Regions from separate parts of the Homo sapiens genome. Here regions 1 and 2 are each linked to region 3. Evidence: fine-mapped expression QTL. A gene starts in region 3. Each other region holds a variant in brackets. All regions are shown on one strand. Distances are between the middles of the regions.

Region 1 (8,186 bases), 82 kb after region 3:
TGACAATAGTCCCTGAAGTTTGGGGGATGACTTCTAGATATCCCTGTGCCTTCAAGCGTGATCATGGGCTGGATTTGTTGGCCCCATGGTCTGCCTCTGAGTCACAGACAAATGATGAAAAAAAGAACAATTTTCTGTCAGCATGCCAGACCAAGGGAGGGGCCAGGAGAAGAACCGTGAACCATGAACTGTGCCACTGCTGGAGGCACTGACAGCTCCTTGGCACCAGATGTGTGACCTCAACCCCTGCAGCTTGGGCACAGATAATATCTCAGGGCAGGGGATGAGGAATAGAGGAAGAAGGGAAAGTTGCAGGGATCCTGGAGTGTTAATACCCATGGTGGCGGCAGAGCAATTTGCCAGGAAGAAAACTCTCTGGTTAACCCTCCGGCACTAGTTGCCAAGCATGTTTGTACTAGAATGGAGTTCAAAGTTACAAACAGAGCACTGTCTGTTTTTAAGGACTCATATGAAAGGTTTGCTTGTCCTAAGCCTGAATCCAAGAGTCTGTCTGTCATAAACACTTTCAGGTAGCCCAAAAATCCCTTCAATGTGATCTCCAGAATAGGGGAAGACAAAGGACTCAGGTCTTCAGCTGTCTGATGAGGAGTGAGAAATTTTTCTAATGAACATCTCTGGCTTATGGATATTAAGGAGAGTTCAGTGTCAAAAGTTTCTGCAGCGTAGTTAACAGAGGTGGAAAGTTGAAATAACCTTAAAGGCACTGAAGCTGAGAAACTGCCCTCTTTATCCTAACAGCCACAGTTAGTTTTGGAACACTGTCCATGGAGAAGCTCAGGGCTGTCAATTTAGAAAGCAGCTGTGTGCTGGCCCATTGGGCACCATCTTTCTCTCATAGGTTGTTCTAGTCCAAGGTGAAGAAAGCTACATTTTGCTCTAAGCTAGACTGACATATGGACTTCTAGATTTGAACCCTAAACACAGGAGGAAGTGATTGATTGTATTACAAAAAGAATCTTCTTTGGTAAATAACTATTTTTTTTTTTAATGGCCAGATGGGAGAAAGCAAAAGATGCCTTTTCGTGGTGTTTTGGAAACCTAGATCTCATCAACTCCCTGGTTGGTTTTGGCGGTCAAGGCTTTTTATGCCAGAGCAACTGTGAGCCAGGTTTCTGAGGTTCTTCCTGACCCATGTTGGTAGCCTCTTAAAAATAACTGTCATTCCAAGTTCAGCTAAAATATATAACTCAACAAATAAATACATATAAAGCATATGAATAGAAGCGGGAAAGTGAGGATTAACAGACTGGAGAGTAAGAGTCTTGCCATGTAAAATACTATAAAACACTCTTAGGAAGTCTCTTGCTTATGTTATTACTTGTACAGTAAATGTGGAGACCTGGATCTCTTCCTCATGGTCCCTTATTTCTTGTTTTCCTGCTGGGAGGTTTCAAGTAGCTGATCCCTTGCACATGTACTTTAAAACTTCAATTATATTTGTCACTGGCTTATCATGGGCAATGTATGTGAATGTGACTAAGGGTCCTGATAAATTAAATGCCACTTTTACATGTTCCTTTCTTTTTCTTCTATTAGTGTTCTTTAGGACTTTGAATGGGAAATCCTCAAACATGTAAGTCTATGTGGCTTCAGAAAACCCCAGAGAGGCCAGGCGCGGTGGCTCACACCTGTAATCCCAGCACTTTGGGAGGCCGAGGCGGACAGATCACCTGAGGTCAGGAGTTCGAGACAAGCCTGGCCATCATGGTGAAACTGCATCTTTACTAAAAATACAAAAATTAGCTGGGTGTGGTGGTGCACACCTGTAATCCCAGCTACTTGGGAGGCTGAGGCACGAGAATCACTTGAACCTGGGAGGTGGAGGTTGCAGTGAGCTGAGATTGCATCACTGCACTCCAGCCTGGGTGACAGAGTGAGACTCCATCTCAAAAAAAAAAAGTTCTCCCCAGTGGCCTCTACTGAATTATCCAAGTGCTTGGGTAGGGGGTGATGCTGAGGCCTGGGAATCTTTAATAAGAAAGAAGAAGGGAAATTCCTTATGTTGGACCCAACATTGAGTGTGTTCAGATACAGATGTTGGCAGGTATGGGGGCATTCGGAAGGAGAACAGCGGCTAACCAAGCTAACTGAGACTGAGTTCAAGATTCGCTTCTGGTTCAGGGGGACTTTCGTTTTCAGGCTCTAATACATTCAGAAGAGCAAATATTGGTACTTTAATCATGCATCTTTTCCCCCTCAAGTTCTGTATCTGCCACGTGTATATTTTATTTGGCATTTAAATGCACAGTTCTTATAATTGCTGATAAATAGTCTCCATTGCACATTTTGCTGGCACTGTGGCCTCACTGTAAATGCTCTCTGTATGTTCTTGGGAAGTTGCATAATGGCAGTTACTCTAGTTTACTGTGCAATATGCTCAGTGACTAATGGCCTAATCATGACTTGAAAAATATATAAACAGTTCAACAGAAGCAGTTGATTCACTGAGCTCTTTCATCCAGACAAGGGTGAGCTAATGGGAATAAAAAAGACGGAGGTGTGCAGCAGCGTCTTTGATGTATTGAAGTTAGAGCATTCCCACAAATCCCATGCATTATTGCTCATTGATGGCGGATCCTTTTTCATATGCATGAGGCAGGAGTGCCAAATTATCGTCCTAATTGGCTCTGACTTGGTATTCCTTAATGTTCGTGTTACACTTGTTACAACTTTTTTCCTTTCCTCTAAATACTACTGACAGTAACAGCTTTGGAGAGGCAGGCTGTCACGTGGCCCCATGGCGTCACCCTACACTGCAGGCTTAAGTGTGGCTCTGGTCCTGTGCTCTGGTTTCTTGGGATAGAATTACAGCTGAGACTGTGCAGTGCGGACCTGCCTGGTTTACTTCAGGGGCATTGTTGATTGACACAGATTCTTGTTCCCTTGTCCTCAGTGGCACCTTTTCTTCCAAGAGGAACAGAGATAGAGTCTTACAACAGCCATTAAATAGAAGATCCTGGGGTCTACTGGAGCACTGTCCCATTGGTGGGGAGAAATAACAATCATCATCATCATGTCTCCCTTCCTTTGGAATTGATTAGGTAGCTCCTATATTCCACATTCCTCTCACCTGTTGACCACACACAATTTTTGGTCTTGTAGCTTGGCCACTCATTTTAGCTCAATCACTGGTTTAATTTTTTTAATGAAATCACTCAATCGATAGAGGCTAACCTCTCGTAGATGTAATAATTCCAACCATTCTCAAAGAAATAATGAAGGGTGGAATATTATGCTTTCTAAAATAATGGAATTTATTTTTTCTTTATGCCCACAGCTGTTTAGTCCTAAAGAGGGGGAAGAAAGAATCTTTCGATCTTTTGGCATGTTCCATGTCCCGTATTGATGGTCATACTTCAGCTTTTTTCTGGTTGTTTAAGAATTATGTGGCCAATAGGCTGCCTTGTATATAACAGTGAAAAACACCCATTACTTGTATTTGTTTCATTTTAAGGTTTAGGCAGTTGGAGCATAGGACAGTAACTGGTTTCCCTTGTTTTCTGGAACCTGCCCCTTGCTCTCTCTTGGGTGATGCCTCACCCCTGCCCCAGTGTCAGAGCTGCCCTGGGTCCTTCTTCCCTTGAAGGGTCTGATGAATGAACCACACAGCTTGTTAGTATCTCAGTTTGTTAATCCTCCCGGAGGAATGTATGTTTCAAAAAAGAAGCTGAAAAGTATAATGGATGAGAATTTGCTTTGGAACTCAGCACACTGTAGATTAGAGAAGGAAAAGAAAGAAAAGGAAGGAACAGAAGGACATGTTTGGGGGGTAGGGGGCCTTTCTGGGGCTTCTGAAAGCAAATGTTGTGATAATTAGTTACAGTGTCCCAAAGATGCCTGGGTCTACCCCTGACCCTCTACACAGGCCAATTCTGCTCCCACCAGAAAAAAACAAGAGTACAGAGCAAAGAGGCAGGGCAGCAGCCTCTGATACCTATTTGAACTTTACACATTCTGATAGAATTTATTATCTGTATTGAATATGGGAGACTGTGGGTAAAAGACTTCAAGACAGTGAAAAACTAGGAAAGAAAAATAAAGGTGTATTGGGCCTTGGCAAATTTTTGACACTTACTTGACTATGTGCTTTAACTTTTTGAAAAGGCAGATAATATAGCAATCACATTAAATATTTATCTTTAAAAGAAATTATTTTAAAAATTACTCTTAATATTACCACATTATGAACTCAATAGGAGATCCTACAGTTCCTTTAACTTTAACAACAGTACATTTGTTAATATTCATTAAAGTTAAAGAAGCTTACTATTACAACAGAATGAAGTAATACTTGCTGGAAAACACCAATATTTTACTTATCTTTATCTAATCCCCCCGTTTAACTGTAGTGATACAATACTTAATTTTAAAAGAGGAATGGTTTGAATGTACAGACTTTTACATGTGTTCTTCCATTGAGTTCTTTCTTGTAGTCTAACCCAATAGTTATCACACTTCAGTGTACATGAAAAGTGCAGTAAAGGATTGTGCAGTATACATAAAATCCTGTGTGGAGTGTCTTGTGGGAAAGCCAAAGGATTTTCAAAGTTAATTTTGACTATATATGACTTTTGCTTAACTTTTGAACTTAACCGCCCACATAAAAACTCACTCCACTATATTTCCCTTCTCTTTGCCTCCCTACTTCTGTCCCCCCTTTCTCCCTTTTTTCCTTCCTCCCTTGTATTCTTCCATCCATCCATCCATCCATCCATCCATCCATCCA[TCCAC/C]CCACCCACCTATCCATCTATCTATCCTCCCATCCACCTATCCACCCACCCATATATCCATCCATCCATCCATCCATCCATCCATCCATCCATCCACCCACTAACTCATCCATCCATCCATCCACCCACCCATCCATCCATCTATTCATCCTTCCACCCATCCGTCCACCCACCCACCCATCCATTCATCTATCCTTCCATCCATCTATTCATCCATCCACCCATCCATTCATCCATCTATCTATTTGTCCATCCATCCACCCTCCCACCTATCCATCCATCTATTCATCCATCCATCCATCTTTTCTTCCATCACTCCTTTCTTTTTTTTTTTTTGAGATGGAGTTTCACTCTTGTTGCCCAGGCTGGGGTGCAGTGGCGTGATCTCGGCTTACCGCAACCTCTGTCTCTCGAGTTCAAGCGATTCTACTGCCTCAGCCTCCCAAGTAGCTGGGATTATAGGCATGCTCCACCACAGCCAGCTAATTTTGTATGTTTTTGTAGAGATGGGGTTTCACCATGTTGGTCAGGCTGGTCTCGAACTCCTGACCTCAGGTGATCCACCCGCCTCGGCCTCCCAAAGTGCTGGGATTACAGGCGTGAGCCACCGCACCCAGCCCCTTCACTCCTTTCTTTTTCTCTTTCCCTGCCTTCCTTTTGATAAATTAACTTAAACATTTTTTTTGGTGAAATTAATATGGTGATGTCTACTTATATTTAAATCAGAAAATTATTAGTATGCTGAATATTCCAATCTCTTAGGAATGATAAAAATATTCTATAAAGGTCAATCTTAATTCCACATCCTATGTTCCTACTCAGCTTTCTGTCTCTGATTTCTCATTTTTAGCTGGGAACATCCCAGCCAAAAGACAGCCAGGTTCTCTGTGAGCATAGCATATCAAACTAACTGTAAGAAAATAACATTTTGGCTTAAAAGCCATCTTCTAATATAAGATAGAATAAAAATGATAATGATTGGTATACTATGTGGCATTGTTAGTAAGAATTTGAAGTAAGATTTACCTAAATCGCTGAAAATATTGAATAGTTGGCTGAGACTTTAGAATTGGTACAAACATGTACATTTTCTCAAAATCAAAAGAATTAAAATAGATATCCAAGAAGTCAGATTATGAAAAAATAAGATAGTCAACGGAAATCCTAAAAGTAACTTAAACATTGGCATTGGACATATTTCATTTGTATTTCTGCCATAGAAGAGTTAAGTTAATGTGCATTTTTGCCATGCAATGGCAAAATGAAGAGACTTTTTTTTCCCTTCTTTTTGCTCTTGGTAAAATTAAGTGGCAAAGAAAAGATAGCTCTGAGGTTATTGCTAGAATTTTGTGCTAAAAACATTTTGGCTAGAGCAGCAAGTTTTTAGGCAAACAGCCCCTGATAAAAGTTGCAAGAAAAAAATCTCATTCGAGTGCACCAAACACTTTTCAGATGACCATTTAATTTTTTTAAGTTGCATAAACAATTTCAAGTGCACTGTAAATATAGAAAATAGGGTATGATAGTTGACAGAAACAGAATGAATTAAGAGCAGTAATAGAAAATTGTAAACAATTATATCTGAATTTCATCAGTTGTCTTGCTTACATTCACAATTAGTCATCCCGTGAAAGACATAGGTGAACATTTAGCTGCTTAAAAAGGAATTAGCTGCTTGAAAGGACAAATGTTCATGTTAAATTTCATGAAGACTAACCTTCAGCAGACAACGGCACAAATGTGTCAGCTTTTTCTGGTGTGAATGAAGCAAGATACAGGCAAAACAGATGAGATAAATAGGACTTGGAAAAAAAATTCTACTATACAAGTTTTGTATCCCCATCTTTTTGCTCTTTGTGGAGCACCTACTGGAAACCACTCCTGACCTAATGATGAGGACACAGAGAGAAAATTCAATAAGCAATGGCCTGAAAAATAATTTTTATCTAAGTATTAGATAAACGCAGTAGCATATTTGACTTGTAAAAATAACATGGCTAGGCTTTGTATGCCTCCCTGTCCTCTTACCTACGTGGGATTTTCAAATAGCACTGATTCTGGGGAGGGGAATCAAAAAATAGAAGACTCCCCTCTCCCAGAGCACACGTAATTAATGCCTGTGTTGCAGCTGGGAGCTCTCTGCCAGCAGAGTTCTTTGCTCGTCATCTCTCAGCGCTCACCCACATTCCCCTTGATTCACACCGTATTGTTTGTTTACATGTTTGTCTCCCTGACTCAGGTTGGAAATCTTTAAGGACAAGGACAACCTCTTGTTCCTTTTTACATTTCCCATGGTGCTTTGCTCGCAGTGGCCACTACAGACATGATTCATTCATTGTTTTAAAAAAAGTGTTAACTAGTTAAGTGAAAATAAAATGAAACAGCAAAATGAGACAAACGCCTAGATCTGAAAGGCTACAAAATACAGCAGAGGGTTCAGTGGACATAAGAGGAAAGGAACACAATGATATCCCCAATCTTGTGATGGAATAGAAAAAAAAAAAGTGATTGGTGTTGATGTAACACTTTTCTTGGCCAGTTGAACATTCCAGAGTAGAGGTCAGTTTTGTAGTTAAATCTGGTAGGAAGATGTTTCCAACCAGAAGGAATCATACTAAAATTATTTTATCACAACAAGCAGTCCATAACCGAAACTTTAATTTGTGAGTTGGGAATCAGGATAGGAAACCCAATTTTATATTCTTTTTATAGGAAGAAGAATCCATTCCACCACTCAGACTGCTTTCCTCTTTCATAATCGTGGCATACTCTGCCATTGTTTGTTTATTTTCCCCACAACTAGATGGAGAGTGCAAGGACCATATTTTACTCATGTGTATCCTCAGGGCCTAGCACAAAGTAGGCACTCAGTAATGAAGAAGTAAGATGTTTCAATGTCCCTAACATTTAAAAGGATGTATGAAACTAGTGCTAATACCAGAAAGAGTTGGTTTTCATAGGCTGTTAATTGTGGGTTTTGAAATAATGTACTACTTTGTACATTGATTTTATACAACTGTGTTATATACTTCAGTAACTTTCAAGGTAAAAAGTTAGAGGTTATTAAATCTGGCAGGGTCTTAAAACCTGAGTCTCAGTCCATGTAAGAGCATTCTTTTGCTCTTCTTGACTAGCCATGTAAAAGGGTGAATGTAAGTTAGTGAATTATCTTTTAGAAATCTTCAGTTGTATATATATTTTTTTCATCGAATTGCAAACTCACTCACACTTACCAATGTAATACTACCCTGTTGATGAGCATTAGTAGCCTTATTTGGGTAGCCAGATTAGAGACACAGGCTTCATGGTGTTACCTGCCTTGATGTTTTCATTCATAATGCAGCATTTGGGAATGCAGCATTTTTCTATATTGGAGACATGTATGATGATGTGTATGTTCCTTCCCCATAACCCTGTCCGCTTCTCCTTTGGCAG
Region 2 (8,186 bases), 55 kb after region 3:
ATATTGTCTTGATTAAAATACTGTCATGGGCTGGGCTCTATGGCTCTTGCCTGTAATCCCAGCACCTTGGGAGGCTGAGGTGGGAGGATCGCTTGGGCCCAGGAGTTTGAGGCTACAGTGACTGCAGCATTGCATTCCATCCTGGGCAGCAGAGTGAGACCGTGTCTCTATTAAAAATAATAATAATAGGCTGGGTGTGGTGGCTCATGCCTGTAATCCCAGTACTTTGGGAGGCCGAGGCAGAAAGATTGCTTGAGCTCAGGAGTTTGAGACCAGCCTGGGCAGCATAGCAAAACCCCATCTCTACTAAAAATACAAAAATCAGCTGGGTGAGGTGGCATGTGCCTGTAGTCCCATCTACTGGTGAGGCTGAGGTGGGAGGATCGCTTGAGCCCAGGAGGTTGAGGCTACAGTGAGCTGTGATCATGCCACTGCACTCCGGCCTGGGTGACTGAGCTGGACCCTGTCTCAAAAATAATAACAATAAAATTCAAAAATAATGAATAAATGTTAAAATTAAAAACTAAATAGCTTTATGGTAAATCTTGAAAACAGATAGCGTGAGTCCTCTCTGTCTTGTTTTTTCCCTCAAGATTATTTTGGTGGTGTTCTATCTCCTTCAGAGTTCCATATAAATCCCCCTACCCCCCAAAAAAGCCTGTTAGAAGTTAGTTCAGATTGCACTGAATCATAAGAGAGAAATTTAAGGAAAATTCACCTTAACAATATTGAAACTTCAATTCAAAAACACGGTATATCTTTCTCTGCCTTTTTAATGAATTTCTGCCAGGAATGTTTCCCTGTTTTTCCTGCAGAGACATTGCATATCTTTGGTAAAATTTAATTGTACTTTATGCTTTTCGATATAATACATGTAATTTTTAAATCATCCTTTTCAAATTATTTATATAACCAGGACTTTTTTTCTGATCGTACAGGGAAAGTATTAACTATTTCACCACTATTTCATCATGATGTTAGCTGTAGGTTTTTCATTTGCCTTTTATTGGATTGACGAAGTTTCCTTCTATTCTCTTTTTTCTAAGAATTTGTGTTTGTTTGTTTTTATCGGGAATGTGTGTTGAATTTTGTGCAGTTCATTTTTGCCTCTGTTGAGATGTCATATGGTTTTCCGCTTTATGTGGTGAATTATATTGATTGGTTTTAAGTGTTAAACCAAACTTGAGTTCCTGGGATAAGAACCAGTTATAATTATGTGTTATTTTGACCTATTGCTGGATATTTTGGCTAACATTTTATTAAGTATTTTTGCGACTATGTTTATTAAGAACATTGGTCTGTAATTTTGTTTCTTTATATAATATTTACTAGGGTTTAGTGTTAGTGTTAGTAATACTGATTATATAAAATGTATTCGTGGAGTCCTCCTGTTTTTTACTATTTTCTGAAAGAATTTATGTAAGATTTTCTTTCCTCTTAAAATTGATGAAATTCCACAGTGAAATCTTTGGGCTTGGAGTTCTCTTTGTGTGAAGGTTCTAAGTTTTTAAAATTTAATTTAAAAACATTATAAAGTAAAATATTCCCTTTTTTGATGTACAATTCTATGCATTTTAACATGTGTAGAGTTGCATAACTACCACCACAATCAGGATACAGAACAGTTGTATCATCATTGTGCCAAGGATTTTGATACTGAATTCAATTTCTTAACATATAGCCAACTCTTCAGATTTTCTGTTTATTCTTGCTATTGGTAAGTTATGCTTTCTATTTTTCAAGAAGTTTTTTATTTCATCCAAGTTGTGAGATTTATTGACATAAAGTTTTTAGTAATACTTTCTTCTTATCTATTTAGTGTCTGTAGGATTTATAGTGATATCCCCTTTTCCATTTTTAATGATGTTTTCATTTACTTATTTTTGTGATTAGTTTTGCTAGATGTTAATTAATTTTATTAAGCTCTTCAAAGAATGAACTACTGTTTGCTTTCTGTTCTTCTCATTATTTCCTTCTTTTTCCCTACTTTGGATTTAATTTTCCTTCCTCCTTCCTTTCTCTTTTTCTTTTCTTTTCTTTTTTTTTTTTTGAGACAGAGTTTCGCTCTTTCACCCAGGCTGGAGTTCAGTGGCACAATCTTGGCTCACTGCAAACTCTGTTCCCTGGGTTCAAGTGATTCTCCTGCCTCAGCCTCCCAAGTAGCTGGGATTACAGGCATGCACCACCGTGCCCAGCTAATTTTTGTATTTTTAGTAGAGACAGGGTTTCGCCACGTTGGCCAGGCTGGTCTTGAACTCCTGACCTCAGGTGTTCCACCTGCCTTGGCCTCCCAAAGTGCTAGGATTATAGGCATGAGACACCGTGCCTGGCTTGCTTTCCTTTCTCTATATCACTGATTTGAACGTCTTCTTTTTTTTTCTGTTCCTAGGTACACACACTTTTAAGATTGATGTATCTTCCTAATAAGTACACCCTTTAATTATTATGAAATGACCCTTTAACTCTGGCAATTCTCCTTGTCTAGAAATCTACTGATCTGAATATGGCTACAAGAGCTGCAGGCTGTTCAGACTTCAGCCGAGGTCTTGCAATGAGCCCTTATGTTTTAATTGCATTGTACAAATTTTGATATATACTTTTATTGTCACTTAACTCAGTATTTTGTATTTCCATTTTATTTCCTCTGGGAATTGTCTAGTAGTAAACATTTTAATTCACAGACGTGGGGAATTTTTAAGCTTCCCTTTTTTCCTTAATTGCTAATTACATTTTTATTTATTTATTTCTCTTCATAGTTGTTGCTTTAAATATCTCTGTGCCATTTTGTTAGATGCATGTATGTTGACGATTATAAAATCATCTTTATTGGTTGTTCCTTTTGCCAGCCTAGGATGTCCCTCACCATCATTTATAATGCTTTTAACCTTACATTCCATTTTGTCTGATATTCAGAGTGCTATCCTGGTTTTTGTTTTTAGTTTTGCTTATATTTTCTTTTTTAAAAATCTTTTAGTTTTAATGTCATTGTATATGTTCATTTTACACGCATCATTCTTCCCCCCCACCACATATTGTGCATAGCTCTGTACTTGTCTCTGTTATTTGATTAGTGACTTTATACCCAGTTATCCTTACTGTAATCATTTTTATTAAGATTTTTAGCTTCATTTAATGTTTTCTACTTGGCTTTACTTTTTGTTTTGTTTTGTTTTGCTTTCTTCCTTTGGATAGATCGGATTTTTTTTCCCGAACACATTTTATTTTATTCTTGTAGCATTTATACCTTTATTTAAACATAAACTTAGGTATAAACATAGTTTCCTTTATGTCTAAAAATTATCAGTAATTTTTAAGTTCCCCAAATGACTCCCCCACTCATAACCATTGGACCTCTTCTCTCTCAGTCTGCTATTTTCCCCAGTGTTCCCTCTACTGAGACTTAACCACCTTCTTTCCTGCAAGAATTCCCCATCACATGGAAAATAACTCTCAGCTGCATCAACCTCTAGCCTGTGCAACTTCCCCACCTTGCTTGGAACCGGAAATGACTTCTACTTTTAGAAAGTTCATTCTCTGGGCAGAGTAGAAGATAGAATTCATTGGGGTGTTATTGAGACAGAGAGACCATCTAGGTACTCTTGAAGAAGTCCAGGAGACTTTAGGAGGGTCCAGGTTAGAGTAGTGGCAGTAGAGTGGGAGGACTGGTGGAACAACCGGGAGGATTTGGTGTTGTATTTGAGGAGTTTGAGAAAAAGAGAAGTTGATGGTGCCAAGTATGAGTGGCAAATATCAGATTTCTTTTATTTTTTCCTACCCTATTCTCTTCCCTCCCAAATTCCATTTGCATGACTTCTTACCAAGGTTTGGTTCTGCCATTTTAAATGAAATAAGACATGTAAAACACATGGTATATGTCCTAGTATAGAAATAGTAATTAAAAAAAATAGATGCTAGCTTCCACATTTCTGTCTCAAGTGCTGACTGTATGAATGGGGAGGAGGAGCCTACAGATTCCTGAGGAGGAACAACTTCTTTTTCTTGGTGGCAGGGTGGTTAGAAATGTAATTATTTCATTTCTTCATCTTTTGAATTTGAGCTGCCAATGAGACATTTAGGTGACAGAAAATTGTATATCTAAGTCTAGGATTGAAAAGAGATGATAGAGATTCAATAGCTGTTAGGAAAACTGTAGAAGCTCGTCTAGCGGGAGGTGATAAAGTGAAGAGAAGAGAAATTTGAAAAGCATTTATGGGATGGATTGGAAGAAGGAGGATCCATCAGAGAAAGTTAGGAGGCCTGAATTCTTGTCCCAGTCTGGTTTATTTAGCCCTGAATAAAGCACTTAACCCTCTCAGGGTCCTCTTTCTTTCTTCCTTTTTTTTTTTTTTTTTGAGATGGAGTCTTGCTCTGTCGCCCAGGCTGGAGCGCAA[T/C]GGTGCAATCTCGGCTCCCTGCAACTTCCGCCTCTGGGTTCAAGCAATTCTCCTGCCTCAGTCTCCTGAGTAGCTAGGATTACAAGTGTGCACTACCACGCACGGACCATTTTTTTGTGTTTTTAGTAGAGACAGGGTTTCACCTTGTTGGTCAGGATGGTCTTGAACTCCTGACCTCGTGATCCACTTGCCTCGGCCTCCCAAAGTGCTGGGATTACAGGCATAAGCCACTGTGCCCGGCCCTCTCTTCCTTTAAGATCTCTTTCTTTCTCTCTGCCTCTCGTTCTCTTTCTCCATTCTTCATTAATTCAACAAAGATTTCTTGCATACGTATTGGGCGCCAAATTCTGCTCTAGGTATTGAGGCTAAAGCATAAGATAGGATGTGGTCTTTGACCTCTAGTACTGGGAGCAGGCAACAGATTAATCATTGCTCTCTGTTAAGCATTATGGTAGGGTATGTTTCATACCTGAGTCAGGTTGACTGGAGGAAAGGGTGCTGAGAAGGCCTGCAGAGCACGTCCTTCAGTCCAAGCTTTTCAGAATGAGGAGTTGTTCAGACAAGCTTGGGCAAAGAAAGACAAAAGAAGTGCAAAATAGTATTATATGGATGGGCTGAAGGAGCAATAAGCAGTTTGGTAGGTCCATAGTGAGGCAGGCCTGACACCGCTAGAGGGGCTCAGGGTCTCGATCAGGAAGGGCCCTTGTGAGCCAAGCAGAGATCTTGGATTTTATCTTGGATGCAATGTAGACCCATTCAAGGACTGTAGGGATGTGAAAAGTCAGGTGTGTGTTTCAGTGATTTCATTCTGTTAGTGCTATGCATTTGGCATGATAAGGGACCAGGTGGTGGGCAAGGAGACCAGAGAGGAAGCAGTTGTAGAAATCCAGGTGACAGAGGAATGTTGAAAATTCCAGAACCACAGAGCACCTGCTTCATGCTAATCACAGGTCTGTGTGCTGCGGCTTCTGCAGGGACCAGGACAGACAGGCCCCTTGTTCTCATGGAGTTTGGAGTGGCAATGGAAGTGACAGAATGGAAAGAATGAGCAGATTGGAGAGATGTTAATAAGCAAGGATTTAGAGGACTTGATGAGCAATTAGATATTGGAAGTGAATGAGAGGGGGGTAGTGTCTGGTTTGAGGAAGTGAATGGGCAAATGACACCACTCACTGTGATTGGGGAACCAAGAGAATAACTGAGTGGGACCTTCAGGGAAAGGTGCCCAGCCTGCACTTGTATAAATAGGTCTGGATCTCAGGAACGGCCTCCGTGACTTACTGGATCAGGGAAAGAATTGGACTATGTGGATGTTTACGTTACTTGATTTTATTCTGCTCCATCATTCAGTTTGGGTCTGTGACTGTTGAGTCACCTCACAGAGGACGAGGTATCCTTATATCTCTTTCCCTAAAACCTAGTGTGGGGTGAGCAAAACAGTAGGGCTATTGTTTGAAGTAGGTCTGGAATTCTGTATCATTAATTTCTTTGCTCACCCTCTGATCCCTGCCTTCACTTTAGCCCTCCCCCAAGTCCCAGCATAGGCTCACTACCTGGATTTTGGCTTCTGTGTGAACTGCTGTGGGCAATCGTGTCATATTCCTGTCACAGAGACTCTAGGATGCTCCAGCGGGTAGGGATTTTAGGATCACTGGGTCCAATCTCTGCAATTACAGATGAGAGAGGTGAGGCCTGAGGAGGCAAGGGGGCCTGCAGAGCACTGGTGTAGGGCTACAGTGTGGTCGCTTGATTCACTGGTCTGTTTTGCACTGTGCCCCCTCCCCCTCGCTGAGTGCTTAGAGAGCAGGGCAGGAAAAGTTCTGCACATTGGTGCAGACGTTTGGAAATGACTAAGCCTGTGTGTGTAACTTTGAGACTTCTCGTGAAGGTTGTCAAGAAGCATTTGATCACTTCAGCTCTGAGGTAGGGAGACAGTCTCCTTGGGCATCACACTTGCATTCCAGCAGCCCCCTTGTTTGGGGTGCTCTCCAAAGGCTCCCCGTAAGGAATTGTTTCACCCCGGGTGTAGAATCACATTGCACTGCGGCTTCAAAGGAAAAGTAAAAAAGTGCAGAAATTACCGACCGGAGTGTGGGAAGTACTTCTTGTTGGTAAGATTTTCAAGTGCTGGGGAAGAGATGTGTTGAAAGGACATTTACTTTCATCAGCTTAGAGCATCTGTTTTTTATACTTTAAAAAGAAGCAACACCTCAAATTATGGCAGTCCCTGGGCAAGTAAGCACTTGAGATTTTGATCTGTACAGATTCTTAGAGGGAGCGCCTCGCAGGAGCTGTTAGTAGTGATTTGTAGCACTTAACTGATTCTGTAGACCGACAGTCAATCTTGGGGGGAAAGGGGGTTCAGAGGCAATGATAGTTAAGGAACTGCTCCGTAAAACAGCAAATAAGCCATTGCTCTTGCACCCGAGTAGAAATGGAAACTGTACTTAGCAGGCTCTGGAGACCAAATTAGATAGGAAATGAAAATAAATTCCATGTTTTTTATTTTTAACTCAGTGCGCACCTCCAAAACATTCGTACAGTGTGGGCTCCATGACGTGTTTTGCCTGCTCTCTTATACAGATTTAAGTTTTTAAATGGTAGTTAGAGACACTCAACATAAAAGCTGCTGCTTTAACCGTTGTTGTTATTGCTTTGTTTTTTTGAGATGGAATCTCGCTCTTGTTGCCTGCACTGGAGTGCAGTGGTGTGATCTCAGCTCACTGCAACCTCCACCCCCCAGGTTCAAGCAATTCTCCTGGCTCAGGCTCCCGGGTAGCTGGGATTACAGGCGTGCGCCATCACACCCAGCTAGTTTTGTATTTTTAGTAGAGACGGGGTTTCACTATGTTGGCCAGATTGGTCTCGAACTCCTGACCTCAGGTGATCCACCCGCCTCGGCCTCCCAAAGTGCCGGGATTACAGTCGTGAGCCACTGTGCCCAACCCACTTTAACCATTTTTAAATATGCATTTCAGTGGCATTAAGTACATTCACCATAGATGTACTATTTATTATAGGCACAGTTTCCTAAACTGAGTAAAGAAAGGAAACATTTACCCCCACAGCCCAGTATAGTCATTGTTAAAATTAAGATGTTAGTCTCCAAGTCTTTTGTTTACATGATTTTGTTCAAACCTAGTTGCAATACTTTTCATAGAGGTTATAAAGAGAAATATAGAGTTATAAAGGAATTTTTTTAAAATTATACTTTAAGTTTTAGGGTAGATGTGCACAACTTGCAGGTTTGTTACATATGTATACATGTGCCATGTTGTTGTACTGCACCCATTAAATCGTCATTTACATTAGGTATATCTCCTAATGCTATCCCTCCCCCTTCCCCCCACCCCACAACAGGCCCTGGGGTGTGGTGTTCCCCTTCCTGTGCCCAAGTGTTCTCATTGTTCAATTCCCACCTATGAGTGAGAACATGCGGTGTTTGGTTTTTTGTCCTTGCGATAGTTTGCTGAGAATGATGGTTTCCAGCTTCATCCATGTCCCTACAAAGGACATGAACTCATCATTTTTTATGGCTGCATAGTATTCCCTGGTGTGTATGTGCCACATTTTCTTAATGCAGTTTATCATTGTTGGACATTTGGGTTGGTTCCAAGTCTTTGCTATTGTGAATAGTGCCGCAATAAACATACGTGTGCATGTGTCTTTATAGCAGCATGATTTATACTCCTTTTGGTATATACCCAGTAATGGGATGGCTGGGTCAAATGGTATTTCTAGTTCTAGATCCCTGAGGAATCGCCACACTGACTTCCACAATGGTTGAACTAGTTT
Region 3 (8,186 bases):
TCTGCTCTGATCTCCTTGCACACTAAGATGTCTTACTCAATTTTATATTCTCAAGTCTTAGTTATTGTAGATGCAGAGTAAGTGACTGCTTGTAAATAAATAATAAATATATAAACATATTATCTAAGAATAACTTTGAAAAACCTTTAAAACTGTAAAAAATGCTCTGGATCTTTAGTCTGTATAATTTCCCTCATTTATGAATACCTCAAAGCACTACTGAAACAATTAAATGACTCAATGTTATGAAAGCACGATGTGGTTCCATAACTTTTTGGATACTTGGCTTTTACCAAGTATGTTATCTGCTTCAAGGGAGTTTTTGAGGATGCAATATGGAAGAGTAGTGAAAAGTATGAAATACTACGTAGGTATAACTGAAACCTAAATCCTCACCACTGCAAGCATTAAGGAGAAACCCCTAAAATTATTCTGAGTGTAAACACAGCAAAAGGCGCATGGACCTTAACCAACATGTATGACACCAAATGAAATTAAGTTACCTGATGTAGGGTCCAGTGAACTGACTCTGTTTTTAGATAAACAGGAGCTACTATTAGGGTTGCCTGATTCTGTGTTATCTTTGTTTTTGAGTAAAGCTAAGGCATCTTAGGGTTGCCTGATTCTGTGTTGTGTTATCTTTGTTTTTGAGCAAAGCTAAGGCATCTTTTTCACTTTTGAGGTCCACTTTCTTTTAAGAATTCAAGCCTAAAACTCTAAAGAAGTTTATCTTTATTTTATTCAACTTTCAATCTGTTCAGTTACATAGTTGTTATGACCTGGTAAGCCTATCTGTGTTTGCTCAGTTGATTTGCTTCATTTTGAACTACATAACAGGCTACTTCCAATGAAAACATATACTACAATGTAAAATCTGTCATGATTTGGAGAGACCTGTGCACTGGTTTTATTAAGCACTCTTGTGCTCCCTCTGCTGCCATGAAGAAAATGTTCATGTTCAAGACCCCAGTACATTCCTCAGCAGAGCATTCTTTTTTGGCAATAATGATGCAGATGTGTGCACTTACAGTGCAGTAGTATTTATCCAAAGCATATAACATAATAATTTTTCATTGAAAAGCACAAATTAATAAGGGCTGTACTTACTAAAAAGGAGCAAAAAAGAAATAAATAGAGGAATTAACTTCTGCACTTGTGCCCAAATTTATTTAGGTTGATCCCTGTGGTATAGACCAGTGTTCTTCACATGATAATGTGTTTAGAAATCACCCAGGGGCCTGGTTCAAAGGCAGATTCTGATTTGGTATGTCTGGGGTAGAACCCTTGACTCTGAATGTCTAAAAAGCTCCCAAGTGCTGCTGTGGCGACTTTGAAAACTACACTTTAAGTAAGGGTGTAATATGTAATTATATAATATATACTTGCTGGCCCATTTAACACCTTCAAGAGTAGATACCACCAAAACAGTAAAATAGATATGTGATTACAATTATTTTTCATGGTATTTAAGCAATCTATGACACAGGATACGAGTCAAGCTCATCAGGCCTTATTTATCGATTTCCTGTAATTTCAAAGGTTGACTTATGCTTTTACAAACATAACACCAGCCTTATGAGTAGGACTATAGTACTATATATTTGTCTACTAGCTTCTTGGAAGCTCTGCCCTTTTTCATTGAGTTTTTATTTGCACGAGAAAGTCTTGTTTCTAAAGAATCAGTGCCTGTTATTTGTGATTGTACACTTAATATTTTGCCATCTGAAAACAAAATATTTCAGTACTAAAGGTAATGAGACAGTTTCATGAGTATGGTGTTTATGTTGGATCTTGCAGGAAGAAATAGTTACAGATTTTGGTGGCAGTTTATGGCTTTAAACTTAATGGCTAAGAAAGTAAATGACACATTTCTTATTAATTGTTTTTACCATTTGGGTAATATACATATTTAGCTTCCTTGAGAGAACATTTAAATTAATTGACTAACTGTAATCTGAATTATGTGTTTTAATTTAAGGTTGTTAAAATCACGTAAATTAACTGCTTGTGCCAACGTAAAATTACAATATTAGCTTTTTTTTAACTGAAAATTATCTAAATGTAAGATGTCTAAAAATAGAGTGGAGGTGGATTGGACAGTTTGCAGATTATGAGTTGGAATAAAAACATCGCAGTTAAGCCAAAAACATGGCAACCAATATTTTCTGTTATAAAAATATTTGAGATGAATTTAGTTTTTATGAAAGCTGTCTGAAACTGAAATGAATAGCAGAAGCTTTCTGTTTATTCACAGTCCAGTAATAATAATACCTGCAGCACAAAGCATACGTCTTTTCTATATAAAGCCAACAAGCTTCTGCTCCTTTCTGAAGTCGTCTTTGCCAAGCAGGGTGTTGGGGGCGGGGGTGAGGATAGGGGTGAGGGGACATTTTACCCGGTTATGCTCTTACGTACTAACCTTCACCTTGACAAAGCTTGTCAACGAAAACAAAACCAGTCAGAGCCTTTTCAGGAAACTGATGTTAACTGTCCACTAGAGGCTGTAATGAGACCAACAATGTCACTTTAGACCAACCCGAGGTTTAAACCGTAACAATAATCGATTTTTAAATGGAAAAAAAAAAGTTGTAGAAATGAGTAAGAGTGAACACTAGTAGTTATACTTAAATAGCCACATATATGTGCATGGTATTTCAAAAATGTGAGAAAAAAATATTTCCGGGGCTCTGCACCTTCCTCGCTCGTATGTTTATTTTTATTTATGAAGCACGTAGGCTCTTGCAGGCCAGAGTTGTGTAAAAACTGACACTTTTTTTTTGGTCATCCTGTGCCCTGCCTCAGTTGGTGACTAACCGTTAGGTCATAAGTAAACTCAGCCAAAAGATCTCTCAAATACAGCTTACAGTCAAGATTGGTGGCTTTCAGAAAGAAACTTACGCGAAAGGATCATGTTTCCAGACACTTAGTTCTAAGCACCTGAAGAAGGTCAAATGTCGCCCGACACCTACCGGCCTTCCAGAATCATCTGCAACAAGAACGCCGCACTGAGCGCCCTTAGTCTGGAGGCGCCTCCTAGTCCTCCAGGTGCCACACCTGTTGGCAAGGTGCACCCATCCGAAGAAGATTCCTTCGCGTGGAGGTCACACCTGGCGGCGAGACAGGCGGAGGGGCGGGGTGGTGGGAGTCGGAGACCGCACTGAAACCCTGAGTCCAGATTTAAGTTCCTCGTCGATTCTCGAGAACTGCCATTTGATGCTCCGGTTGCTTTCTCTGTCTCCTACACTGGTTACCTCATTTCCGATTAAATTAATGATCCGAAATTAGCTGCGAGAGGAGTGCGCGGGTCTCCTTTCCAGGCTAGAGCGGAGTAGTTCCATATCAAAGCCGATTTCCGGACCTGCGTGCGAAGAGAGAAAGAGGGCAGGGTCGGGCGGTCGCCAGCGTTCGCCGGCAGGAAAGGTGAGGGTACCTGTGCAGTCGGGGGACCCCTTGAAACTTTCCGGAGTTGCACGCAGAGGCAATCCCCGCGGCCCCCAGGCCTGGGTTCCGGAACGCCGAAGCGACGCCGGTTTGTGGCTTAACGTGCAGCTGATGATCAGAGTGAGCCCTCTCAGATGCTGCTCCGAGCGCCTGGGACCAAGGACACGTCGGGATTAGAATGGGCCGACCTCCCCTCCCCGCTGGGGTGTTGCATCGGCTCCCAGCTGAAGCCTGACAGCCCTTGGGGGAGTCCCCCAGGTTGCCTGAGTAGCGCCCCGTTGTCGTTCAGTCCCCTCCAACTAGGTGCAGGGACCCAGGGAGGCGCGCGAGGACCGACCCGTCACCGCTCAAATTACCTCATCGCCCAGCTCCCCGCCCCCTTCCCAAACCTGGAAGGAACCTTGCCCTCCGGTCCGCGTCTCCCCTCCCCCGCACCCCATCCCGAGCCACTCTTTGGGAAAGGTGCCCGCCTCCCCGGGCGGCGCGCAGCGAAGGGTTAAGGGCGCGGGCCGGCCGCCGCGCGGTGCGCTCGCCGTGCTCTGTGCGGCTCGCCGGGCCGCCCGCCAGAGGGTGCCCCCCACCCCCATGAAGTCGGATCCTTGAGCTGCGGCGGCGGCAGCCAACTGCTCCATATTTGGCTTCTATTACACATTTACATACTGGAGCGAGCGAGCGAGCGAGCGCGAGAGAGCGCGAGGGAGGGAGGGAGGGCGGGCGGGCGGAGGGAGGAGGGAGGGGAGGGGAGCGGGAGGAGGGGGAGGAGGAGGAGGAGGAGGAGGAGGAGAGAGCAGAGTATACCGCAGACATCATTTCTACTACAGTGGCGGAGCCGTACAGGACCTGTTTCACTGCAGGGGGATCCAAAACAAGCCCCGTGGAGCAGCAGCCAGAGCAACAGCAGCCGCAAGACATTGTTTCTCTCCCTCTGCCCCCCCTTCCCCACGCAACCCCAGATCCATTTACACTTTACAGTAAGTGACTATTTTTTTTTCCTCCTCCGATTCTTTCCCCCCTCCCCCATTCCCTTCTCCCCTTATTTAGATTAAAATCCCTCCTCCCCCGATCTCCCGAGAGGGGCAAAAGCAACAACCAGCAAACAAACCCAAAACCCCAATCGGCTGCACGGAAAACAGCTGGAAGAGGAGCGAAGGAAATCGACGCGTCGTGTTCTGTGTGTGTGCGTGTGTGTGTGTGTGTGTGTGTATGTGTGTACATACAACCGTCCCCGGCTCCAGGCTCCCGGGCCGACACCCCCACTCTGGGCGCAGGGGCGGCCGGCGGGGGGGCTGTCAGGGGCTGGGTGGGCGCCCGCCGGGCTAGGGGGCGCGCCCGGGCGGGGGGCGCGGGCGGGGAGAGCGGCGGCGGCGCCCCGCTCCCCCGGCTGCTGGTCCGGTCGCAAGTGCGGAGAGCCATGTCCTCCTCCCTCCGGGTGGCGCAGGGGGGAGGCGGCGGCTGGGGTTGGGGGGTGGTCCCTTTCCCGGCCGCCCTCTTCCCATTCCTCCTCCCCGGAGAGGGCGGTGAGAGAGAGGGGGTCTCACGGAGGGCTGGACTTCTCCGCGGGTGGTCGCCCGGCCTCGGCGCCCTGGGGCGGGGGTCTCCCCTCGGAGGGCCGGCCTCGCCGGGTGTGCGGCTGCGGGCGGGGAAGGGACTGCTCCTGCAGCCGGGACGGGACTTTGCGCGCGGCCGGGTGCCGGGCGGGGGGCGCAGAGGGGTGGCCTCGGGGACCGCGCGGGGGTAGCGGGTGTGCGGGTGCCTGGAGCGCGGCTGGAGTGGCGGTGACGGCCCTGGCCGCCGCCGCCACCGCCGCCCTGTTGGTGCGGCCGCTTCCTGATCATGTGCAGCGGCAGCCGCCGCCCGGAGCCGGGAGCCCGCGAGCGCCCCAGTCCGGGCCGGCGCCCCCGCCAGCACCCGCGGCAGGAGACGAGGAGCCGCGGCAGGCGCTGCCCTGAGCCGGGAGTGAACGGCTGCGCGGCTGCTGGGAGGGTGAATGAAGCCAGGAGGAGGGGAAGGAGGAGGAGGCGGCGGCCGCCGCGGAGGAGGCGCTGCGGGGATTGGGATGCGCCCTGGAGCCCCACTGCTCGTTCACTCTGGGCCGGGCCGGAGACTCTGCCACTCCCGGGGGCGCCGCCGCCTCCTCCTACGTGGTTCCAGTGCTGCGCGCAGGCCGGTCCCGCAGGGGGCAGGGAAGGGGGCCGGACGGGCGGAGCGAGAGGTGAGGCGGTGTCGGAGCGCGGCGTGAGTGTGAGTGAGTGTGTGAGTGACTGTGTGTGTGTATTTGTGCGCGCGCGCGCCGGGCGGGGGGCGAGGGCCGTCGCGACGCGGAGGGGGCCCTTCCTTGGCTACTTGGCTGACTCTGCAGCGCCCCGACCCCTCTTCAGCCCCCCGCCTTCAGGCTGCCTTCTTAAACTCCGTGGCTTGTGCTTTCATTTTGTTTCAGACCACGTAGGGGGCTGACTGAAAGGGATGAAACAATTCAGGTTTTCTAGGGAGATTGAGCAAGAACCTTAGTGGGGGTGGAAGTAGGGTGGTGATCGAGACTCTGCCAGAAAACAAAACAAAACAAAAAAAAATCCGTTTCTAAGGACGGCGGGGATTCGGTTCGAGCCCGTGGCTGCTCTGTTTTGTTTTGCTTTCTTGGTATATAATCCTACAGATAAAAGGGTAATATAAATATTTGAGAAGAGGGAAATTGCTGAAGAGTAGTAAGGGCAAAAAAAAAAAAAAAAAAAAAAAAAAAACAGTCGGAAGAAGCTGGTTATATAATGCGCGATGTGGCTAACAAGAAAGGCAAGCTATTTTTATTTTGTTTACCGTATGCTGTGCAGTAGGGACTCCTCCAAACTGGTTCTGTCCCCGAAGAGATTCTTAGCTTCCCTGCGAGATCCACAGGATACAATTAGCAAAATTAGAAGACCCTATTACACCCACAGAATAAAAACTAATGCCTTACAGTGGCTTTCTCCCTGCACATCCTGTCGTGCATGCACGGGAATGTGTGTATGCAAATAAGTTCTCCTTTGGCAATCTAGTAGTCACATCTCAATGACATTTGTGTTTTATAATGCAGGCTGTTTTTAATATTTAAACATCATTGTTATATATTGCACACAGCAGTGGGTAGTTACTTGGTTATTTTTAGGCACAGCTAGTTACTTTTTCAACAGTGTTAGCTGAGACATTTCTGTTTGGGTTTTTTAGGAGGCTGCAGTTCCTAGAAGCCCCCCTTAAGCCCACCCTTCGGTTTATTTGATGGGTAAAGGTAGTTTGATACTTGAGCTTTTTTTGGAGTGAAGCTTATGTCTGAGGAAACCACCAGAGAGAAGAGAAAATCCTGCACAGGAACTCTTGGAAAGGGATTGCACCATAACGGCTAGCGCTGTGGCATTTAATCTCCTCTGATTGCCCTCTCACTGTGCATGCATCAGTCAATATTTTAGCAGCTCCGCAAATAAATGGACTTGAATGCCATCTTCTACATAAAGCAGAGGTTGAAGGGCTCCCCTGAACCTCCTGGCTGCCTGTCAGTGGTGTAGGTTTTCGGTGCACTTACTCCAGTCCTGATCACTCATGTAATTAGATCAGGCTGCCATGGCAACAGACAGTGTTCCTCGTCCATTCAGGTGGGTTTGTCTTGTGCCTGAACTACTCCAAGTGTTTTATGCACAGCATTTATGCTGCCCAAGCCAGACGAGAGACTCCACTATTTCAATTGCATCTTCTTTCAGTCATTTGGATGGGAGACACTGAATGAGGCTTCTAGCTACTCAACTTTTATAAAGGAGACCAACAAGCTGTTCTTCCTAGGTGCAGTATGTAAATGCATCTCCCCAGACAGTGAAAGGAGCCTGACAATCCTGCTGGTGTTTATTGTGAACAGATCAACAAGTATTTGGTACTTGTTAGAAACCTTTCAGAGCTCACTAAAGCAACATTTCTTTTGCAGTCTGGTGCCTTTGGCCTTGCAGTCAGTCACTTAACCCTTTCAAGTGTGAAGAGCGTTCATCATTTGGAACCTCCATTGCCCATAGCGATGGCTGGATTTCTAAAGGGTTTACTCAGGGGAATAACTTATTCGGAAAATATATTCCCATTGTCACATTTTAAAACTTGACAGCCATCATAACAAAAACTGGTACTGACAGTAGGCAGACATTCTGAATGTATTCATTCTTAATTTGGATCTATTGGCTGTGATTTGAATGATCTTTGGTAGTAAGTTAAAAGGATTTTTTTTTCCTTAGCTAAGCGAGAAACGATAGAGGCCTATAGCTAGAGGACTGATAGTGCATGGTGCTTTTGGACAATAAACATGTACTTTATTTTAGGATGTAATTTAGTGAGCAGTTAGAAAGCAGTATTCTAGTCTTTGCATTAGGGCACCACTGATAAAGCTGGCTAAGCAAAGAGAAATAATATTATGGCAAAAAGGAAAAAAGGAAAAGTTGCTTTAGTTGCTGAAGCTCTGTGCTGCTCAGGCAATCCAACTAAGTGGGGCAGGGGGCGGGCGGGGGGGAGTATTTTCATAACCCTGGTATTTGAAAGAAAAGATAATTGAGAATTATGTCTTGATTTAGTTGTGACTGCCAGTCAGTTTACAATTTTATGGCCAACAAAGCTAAACTGGTAAATTTTTTCCCCCAGGGCTAGGATTGAGAGAGCTACTCAACTCTATTCCCAGGGGGTTTATGAGTTTTTACCGTTTTGTGAGTTTATGTGGTTGGTAAATTCATTGTGGCCTGGTCAGA

Alleles and levels. Alleles are on the strand shown, and positions count from the first base shown. SD is a standard deviation of normalised expression in the study named. Not every link is listed here.
In carriers of allele TCCAC in region 1, the expression in monocytes after Pam3CSK4 of the gene that starts at base 4,250 in region 3 tends to be lower than with C alone (moderate effect, 0.67 SD a copy in Quach 2016).

What was found. PIP is the estimated chance that this variant, and not a neighbour inherited with it, causes the effect.
Region 1: its variant is fine-mapped to the expression of ATXN1 in monocytes after Pam3CSK4 (Quach 2016, PIP 0.92).
Region 2: its variant is fine-mapped to the expression of ATXN1 in whole blood (TOPMed, PIP above 0.99).

Annotation. Positions count from the first base shown.
Region 1 is chr6:16,675,938-16,684,123 of GRCh38, reverse strand. All of the region lies in intron 2 of ATXN1 (ataxin 1), which reads left to right. Among named protein-coding and RNA genes, the nearest start is that of ATXN1-AS1, 81 kb to the left of the region's middle. The variant TCCAC/C (reference allele first, on the strand shown) is at 4,748.
Region 2 is chr6:16,702,890-16,711,075 of GRCh38, reverse strand. All of the region lies in intron 2 of ATXN1 (ataxin 1), which reads left to right. Among named protein-coding and RNA genes, the nearest start is that of ATXN1-AS1, 54 kb to the left of the region's middle. The variant T/C (reference allele first, on the strand shown) is at 4,392.
Region 3 is chr6:16,757,524-16,765,709 of GRCh38, reverse strand. It overlaps ATXN1 (ataxin 1), which reads left to right and starts at 4,250. Exons shown (of 8, transcript NM_001128164.2): 1 at 4,250-4,412. ATXN1-AS1 (ATXN1 antisense RNA 1) reads right to left here and starts at 4,572. Exons shown (of 3, transcript NR_136240.1): 1 at 4,544-4,572; 2 at 3,431-3,591; 3 at 1-3,358. RefSeq lists an enhancer at 2,597-3,796 and silencers at 3,797-4,116, 3,934-4,149, 4,157-4,316, 4,793-4,922, 4,993-5,472 and 1 more.